2 linked regions of the Homo sapiens genome follow. The protein of the gene in region 2 purifies or fractionates together with the protein of the main gene of each other region. This does not show direct contact. Each region holds a gene or a part of one and is shown on either strand. Other genes may lie near its edges.

Evidence for each region.
Region 1: the proteins of TIGD7 (region 2) and FBP1 purify together in Homo sapiens (affinity purification with mass spectrometry; one large-scale study listed by BioGRID and IntAct). This does not show direct contact.

What each region holds. Positions count from the first base shown.
Region 1 is NC_000009.12:94,629,299-94,633,108, forward strand, and holds part of FBP1 (fructose-1,6-bisphosphatase 1), read right to left. Parts: intron 1-3,810. UniProt on the Homo sapiens protein: Catalyzes the hydrolysis of fructose 1,6-bisphosphate to fructose 6-phosphate in the presence of divalent cations, acting as a rate-limiting enzyme in gluconeogenesis. Plays a role in regulating glucose sensing and insulin secretion of pancreatic beta-cells.
Region 2 is NC_000016.10:3,302,454-3,306,968, forward strand, and holds the start of TIGD7 (tigger transposable element-derived protein 7), read right to left. Parts: upstream 2,978-4,515; 5' UTR 2,759-2,977; intron 1-2,758.

The sequences.
Region 1 (3,810 bases), on a different chromosome or scaffold from region 2:
GAAAAAGCAGAGCTGATTAGCATGAGTCCTGCTCGTGCCCTTCACAGATCCATGGCCATTGAATAGGCACAGCTGTTGATATGGGGGCGCTTCTGGAAATAAAACCACAGCTGCTTGGAAGAACTAATTCACCTCTCAAGCCTTGGCCTAGAAAATGGAAGCCTGTTAACTAGGAAGCCTGTTAATTGATTTGGGTGGTAAGACGGATAATTAAAGCAACAAGGAAGGATCAGAGCCTGAAGCTGAAGGCACCAGCCTCCAGGAGATCTTCCATGGTGCCAGGAGCCTGGAAAATGTGTGCAAGAGTGAGACACCAGCATTGGTGACATCACATAACCCCCACTCCTGGGGAGGTAGGGGGGAGGGTCTAGTCTCTCAACCCCCACCAAGAGAGGACCGGGAGAGCCCTCAGGCATGGAAGCATGACCTTTATGGGGCATTGTCTTCATGGCCTTAGGAATGGCCCACTCTCTTCTAAGAGCCACTGGGAGGGAGGGCACAGACAGGGCTGCCACCCCTGGAAATGCTACCTAAAACCTCGATCTTAAGAGGCCTGGGCCCAACCTGCTTTGTACAAGAATGCCAAGAGTGGAGGGCCTCTGAGCTCACCTCACCTGTTGGGCCATCCTGAGGATGGCACAGCCCTCTACCTGGGACATTCGAAATTAGAACCTTACAGGCAGCCAGAGGTTTTTCTAGTGAGGTCTGAAGCAAAAGTACAGGGCACCAGGTAAATGCCGAGTGTATACTCCAAGGGGACCGAAACTCTTACATAAACATGGCACATCTGAATGTGCCTCTGGAGGAAGAAAGACCTATCAGTCTTGATCCTGGAAAAAAGAATATTTTGTTCACCATGTATCCTTAGCACCTAGAACAATGCCTGCACATAGTAAGTTCTCAATGTAAATGGATGAATAAATTTAGAGAGTAATAAAAGGATCCAAGAATTCCTAAGATCATAAACTCCATTAGACCCAGTGGTATTGGTAATGCCTGCCTGCATAACCTCTACCATCCAACACTCCCAACTCCTGAAAAAAACCCTCCAGATTAGCATAGCTTCTTGGTAAAAGTGTGTTTGCTGTGCAAACTTAGCGTTAGACAAATGCAATGGCCTTTCACCCGGTTCCTCAGGAAACTAGAGTGTAATGGTCAAGGCCCCAGGCTGGCACTCTACACCACCAGGGTTCCAATCCCAGCTCTGCTCCATGCTCAGCAGCCGGGGAAAGTCACTTAGCATCTGTGACCTCTGGTTCATCTGCAATATGGGAATGTAGTGTGTCTGCTTCATAGTCTACAGAGAGGGGGCATAACTGAGTTGATACAGGTAAAGTGGTCAGAAAAGTGCCTGGTGCATAGGCAAGTGTGCAAGAAATATTACCGTTTCCACCTCTAGCTCCCTTGGCATAACACAACCATGCGGAGAAGCAAGAACTCAGCACCAGAAAGACCTCAGTTCAAATTCTGCCTTTGCTTCTTACTGATGATGTGACATCAAGTTGTGCAAAGCCCCTGAGTGGCTGTTTCTGGCCATGTTTGTGGGGATCATGGATAATGCGCGCGGTGCACCTGGTTCATAGTACTCCCCACCAAGGCAGCCACATGACAATAGAGCCCCGCAGGCATCCACTAAGTAAGTGTGGGTTGATCTGGGGATTGGGGGAAGGGGAGGTATCTCTAAACCAGTTTTGCAGGCAACTTCTTGGAGGACAGCCAATAAGGAACTGGCAAAAGAAGAAAAAAGTGCTCCAAGTTTACATTTGATAAAATCTCACTGGGAATATTATTTATTTGAGATGTTCTTGACATTTCACTTCAATTTTATTCAAATTAGTTGGCCCTGCAGCCCAAGTAAAGTGGAAAAGCACCAGGCAGGGTTGAAGTCTCTGTGTCCTTTCCCTTTCCAGCCCCAGAGATACGAAGGAGCTCTTCCTGGAGTTTGGGGAGCAGAACTCAACTGGAGAAACTGCCTATAATATCTCTTCTTTACTTTTACTGTAAATCCCACTGAAAAATTTAAAGAGCTCTAAGTCATTTTAATTCATATGATGGAGAACACCTTAGAAGCATAGATTAATGTGGCCAGTATTTTGAAATCCTTGGATATTTTAATTAAATTTTAGCATTGTTTTCCAAGTTTACAAATGGTTTCTAAAACAGAATGAACCATTTCACAGCCATGGACTTTGTGACACTGAACATGCAGATTTGTGATGATTGGGGGAGGCTGCCTTCCACAGCATCTCTAAAACACTGAAGGACACAAGGATTGGAGCCAGGGGCTGACAGAACTAGAGCCCTCCAGGGCTGCCTGGATCTGCTGACTTAGGACCATCTCCTCCCGAAGTCACTGTGACTGAGTAACACGATTGCAGCAGCAACACTTCACACAGCACACAGAAGAACCAGACTCGGGCTCGGAACACGCAGCTCAACCAAAAGGGAGGGAGATTATTACTTAATCCTTATCACTAAAGTCAAAGGTAAGACTGGCTTGTTACTGCTTGATTCCATGGTAATCAACCATTTGCCCAGCCAGGAACATCCAAAGGTTCAGAAATACATTGAAGAGGTGCTAGTGAGAGCTGCTTTCAAAGGTCACAAATACCTGCCTCTGCTTGCATTCACCGGGGCCTAAACTGGTAAACAGGATGGAACGTGGCTGTCTGCGCTTCTTTTATGCAAACAAACTTGCAATTTCACTCCTTGGTCATGTGGAGAAGAGAATTCAAGAAACATAAAATAAATCTGGTAAAGTTTCTAAAAGCTTAATGCCAAAAACTGCAAATTGGAAGATAAGCCTAAACGTGTATTAGCTGACGTGTCATTCTAAAACGAAATCTGAAGCTCTTTATTATTTCTTCTGTCAAACAGCTGAGAGGACCCCATATATAAAAGTAACTCTTCTGGACATAATATGAGTCTGATGGGAGGACATTTCCTGCAGCCACTCTTGGGTGCAACATTGTTCTAATATGTAACATGCTAGCCTGGACTCTCTCCCTGCTGATAGCATACAGGCTACTGCTAAGAAATGAAGAACAAAACATGCAAATAAAAGTTTACAAAAAAATGAAAATAAAATAGACCAGGCACGGTGGCTCACACTTGTAAGCCCAGCACTTTGGGAGGCTGAGGCGGGTGGATGACGAAGTGAGGAGTTCAAGACCAGACTGGCCAACATAGTGAAACCCCGTCTCTACTAAAAATACAAAAATTAGTTGAGTGTGGTGGCAGGAACCTATAATCCCAGCTACCTGGAAGGCTGAGGCAGGAAAATCACCTGAACCTTGGAGGTGGAGGTTGCAGTGAACCGAGATCACACCACACCACAGCCCTCCAGCCTGGGTGACAGAGCTAGACTCTGTCTGAAAAATAAAGAAATATAGCCTTCAGGAAAACAATGATATTAATAACATTGGTACCCAATTAGTAAACTTAATTGATCCTCCTACGAGTCTCTGAGGCTGTCTCCATCTTAACAATTGGAGAAACAGGTTCAGTGATGTCACATCAACAGCCCAATCCTCACAGACGTTGAATGGCAGGGCCAGGAATCTAAGCTTGGCTCCATCTCTCTCCAAAACGTGCTCTGAATCCCTGCACATTCCTGTCTGCTAAACTGGTCCAGATCTCCTCCTCTTTTCTCTGCCTCAGGGCAAGCGTGCCAAAACAGACAGGCAAAACAGCCTGCAGCTGGACAGCATCTCCCAACAGATCACCCTCTAACATCTCAAGTTCAGCGTTTCCAAAATGTTGGGATCATCTTCCCTCCTTCCCCAGACTAAAAACCAGCTCCTCCTTGTT
Region 2 (4,515 bases):
AAAACCCAGAAGAGTCAGACCACTGGTTTTCCTGTAACATTCATTGCAAGAAATGCCAACTATGAGTTATAGAGCATGGAGAAGATTACAAGAGAATATGGTAGTAATTAGGGGGTGGAGCCAATGGCAGGCTACGATCAAGCAACTTTCTAAATGAGGCAACTATAATTAAGGCAGTTAGTAAGTGATAACTCAGACATAAATCTTGGTTTATCTCTTTCACTTATAAATAGAAAAATAAAAAAGTATTTGCTAGCCAATAGCAGCACCATTAACTCAAGCTAGTCACCTAGCAAAAATATTCAGGCCACTATGACAGTTGTGTAGGTGTCTCAGAATTAATGTATTTGCTTTCAATGCTTCTCAGCTGTGCCGTCGTCTTTTTTTTTTTTTTTTTTTTTTGAGATGGGGTCTGGTTCTGTCGCCCAGGCTGGAGTGCAGTGACACAATCTCGGCTCACTGCAACCTCTGCCTCCAGGGTTCAGGCCATTCTCGTGCCTCAGCCTCCTAAGTAGCTGGGATTACAGGCACGCACCACCATGCCCCGCTAATTTTTATATTTTTAGTACAGACAAGGTTTTGCCATGTTGGCCAGGCTGGTCTCGAACTCCTGACCTCAAGTGATCCACCCACCTAGGCCTCCCAAAGTGCTGGGATTACAGGTGTAAGCCACTGCGCCCAGCCACAGTCATCATTTCTAAAACAGTGCCCAAGCAAGGGGAGGTGAAACCAAAAGGAAAGGCTCAAGGAATGTTTGTGGGCTTCAAAGGATAAGCCACTATGGCAGCAAACCTCACACAATGAAAATCACCAGTGCCTCTTATTCACTATTCACAATTTGTGCCTTGCTGCCTCTTTTTCCCATGAATCCCTTTTCCCTTTAACCAACTTCCTGTGTTATGAATCAGGCCTGTCAATGATATCCAAGGGCACTGCTTAGCACTGCTAGCAGAACTTCACTTATTCAACTTAATAAATTCTAATTATATATTCAGCATTGGGCCAGGTGATGAGAATCTTAATGCTGATGGCGCTACTGTCCACTGGTTCTGATAGACTGAGAATATTTACTGCTGAAGAAATGAAGTCCCAACCTGGCTGAGATTTTAAGGAAATGAACCTACTTAGACACAAATTCAAGTGACTTAGGCAGATGCTCATTATTAAATCTGTTTATCTTTCTCTCTCACTTAAAAAGGATCAAGATCTATGCCTAAGAGGAGTTACATACCATCCCATCCAAAAGCAAAAATAGCATAATGGCCTGGTAATGGCCTCTCATCTTCATTCTCACCTTAAACTTACCTTAGATGAACTGCCATAGAAAGCAGCTCAGTCCAAAACGCTCAAATGGTGCTCCAGGATTTACTTTTTTGTATTGTTTTGTTTTGTTTTTTGCGACGGAGTCTCGCTCTGTCGCCCAGGCTGGAATGCAGTGGCGTGAACTCGGCTCACTGCAAGCTCCGCCTCCCGGGTTCACGCCATTCTCCTGCCTCAGCCTCCCGAGTAGCTGGGACTACAGGCGCCCACCACCACGCCCGGCTAATTTTTTTTTGTATTTTTTAGTAGAGACGGGGTTTCACCATGTTAGCCAGGATGGTCTCGATCTCCTGACCTCATGATCCGCCCGCCTCGGCCTCCCAAAGTGCTGGGATTACAGGCGTAAGCCACCGCGCCCGGCCAGGATTTACTTTCTTAAATGCACTCTTTTCATTCCCATTCAAAGGACTCCAGTATAAGTGCCACATAAACTCGTTTTCTAACTTTTAAAACTCTTCCTCTAAATGCAGCCCAACTCAGTAAAAACGTACCTAAGATCTCACAGTCTAATGTTTCCAGCTTTTAAAGCCTTTACTCCTACCCTTCCCTCTGCCTGGAAAGTGTCTCCATTCCCTGCTGTGGACAAAATCCCTCAAGGTCTTTTATAATTTCCCCCAACCCCAAATCAACTTGGATTTTCTTGGAGTTCTCACAGCATTCAGTTTATGTCCTATTCTTACCCTTGTGTTACTGATATTCACGAAATTGCTCAGTCCTTTCAAGAGATTGCTTAAGGACAAAGACTTCTTACTCAACTCTGCAATATTGGCTACACATAGCTGACTTAATAAATAGTCCCTTGACTGGTATAAGCTGACGTTACAAAAACTGGTAATTCCGAAACCACTCATACTGGACTTATTAAATAATCCCTCAACTGGTACAGACTGACATTACAAAAACGGATTAATTCAGAGATCACTGAACACCCAAAACACTCAGATTCTTATAACTATGATTCAGTAAATATGTGTGGAATGCCTATCTTACCAGGTGACTATGTTAGGCGCTGCATGAGATATAAGATGAAAACAAGGTTCCCATTTTCCAGGGAAGAATACTGGAGTGGAAAACGCAGAGGATACCACAACAGGAGAGCTATTTCCGATTAGCGGCCGCCACTGCTGAGCTATGTGACCCTGAGCAAGTCACTTCTTAGGTCTCCGTTTCTCTGTCAAGGAGAGATAGAAAAAGAACCTATTTCACAGGTTCAAACCTACCTCAAGAAAAAATAGTTGTGGGGAATGCGTCACGAGACCTAGAAAACGGTACAAAACCCTCGGGGGGCCGCTGTTTCTGACCTAGCGAGTGGCCCGACCCGGACAAAATGCCTCTTCCTCGAGGAGGCGGCGACGAGCCCAGCAACAGCTCGAGCACGGCCGGCCGGGCCGCGGGAAGCCCGAGAACGCGGCGCGCGCAGCTGGGAGGCGACCCTTACCCGGCGAGGCTCCCGGGACCAAACGCCGCCCGACAGCCACGCAGAACAGACGCGGCAGTGCGACGCCTCCCCCACTGGGGACACGAGACAGCGACAGCCACGCGGTGAGCCGGTACAAGGCCCTCTAGGCTTCAGCGGGTCTGGATACTCGGTGGCATTAACCCTTCCCTACCGCCGGGGAAGACAGCAGTTTCTCTGGCGAGGAAGTAGGCCGGGCTCAGGCGCCTTAGCCAGAGGGCGGGCCTGCGCCACCCTCGGAAAGCGTCACTTCCACTTCCGGCCGGCGCTCTGGCTCTGTACCTGGACAGGGCTGCGGTAGGCCAGCGGTGGGCTGGCGGTTGCGCTCCTCAGATCGGCGGCCTTTCGGGCGGTGGCTTGCGTTTGAGCCTCAGAAAGCGAGGAGCGGCCTCCACGGAAGCCAAGCTGGCCGAGGTAACCGAGAAGCGGCTTCCCCTATGGCTTCGACCCTGGAGCCGCTGGAGCGGCGGCGGCCGCAGGGAGGCAGCCATTTTCCGTAGGCGGTGGCCGCGGCGCTTCCGGGCCGCGCGGCTGGAGCCTGAGGCGGGGCCACCGTCGGGCACGAGAAACCATTCTCTCCCCGCTTTTCGCAGCTGTATCCCAGAGGCGCGGCTGAAGCTCGCTGGGACACTGCCCGCTTGCCCAGTGCCCACGGGCACGCCTGTCGCAGACACAGGCTGTGGCGAATCCGAGTGCTGGCGGGCAGCAGTGCCTGCAGCTGCGCCCGCAGACTCTTTCCCGCCTCCGCCGGCATTTCCGTGTCCGGCCGATGTCATGCGGTCGGTTGAGCCTCAGGGCTAGCAGCTTCTACTGATGCAAAAACATAGGAAGTGTCTCTTTGCTTCTGGAACCGGGGTGGGCAGCAAGGAGCTGGCCACTTCTTTGAATACCGGTGGCATCCTGGGCAGAATTTCGGTGCCGTTTCTGCTGGCTCACTTCAGGAAAAGTGAGGCTCACGGCTCTCCTCAGCCCCCCTTAGAAGTCTAAATGACCTTTGGAGAAATACAAAGTCAGCAGAAAGTTTCACTTTCATCGTCACCAACTCCTGTTGGAGTTGATATTTCATAAACATCAGCGACAGAAAGAAAATACGACTTGATATTTTGTAAATAAAATATCCTTTTTTACAAGTTGATATTTTGTAAACAGAGGTCAGCTGTAATTTTCTCCAGATCAAGTAAGCACAGTTAAAAATTCATATAGGCCTGGCGCGGTGTTTGACGCCTGTAATCCCAGCACTTTGGGAGGCCAAGATGGGTGGATCACGAGGTCAGGAGATCGAGACCACCCTGGCCAAGATGGTGAAACCCTGTCTCTACTAAAAACACAAAAATTAGCCGGGCATGGTGGCACGCGCCTGTAATCCCAGCTAGTCGGGAGGCTGAGGCAGGAGAATGGCTTCAACCGGGGAGGTGGAAGTTGCAGTGAGCTGAGATCACGCCACTGCACTCCAGCCTGGGTGACAGGGCGAGACTCCATCTCAAAAAAAAAAACAAAATTCGTATAAATCATCTGCATGGCACCCTTTATGTGTGTTGCAAAGAATGATGAGCATCTTGTTGCTTACTTGGGAGACATTGTCTGAAAATAGGCTACTTTTTTACTTTCTGTAGTACCCCCTCCCCCCACTGTATCTGGGTTTCACTTACCCGCTGTCAACTGCCATCCAAAAAATATTAAATGGAAAACTCCAGAAATAAACAGTTCATAAGTTTTAAATAACTTTTTTTTTTTTTTTT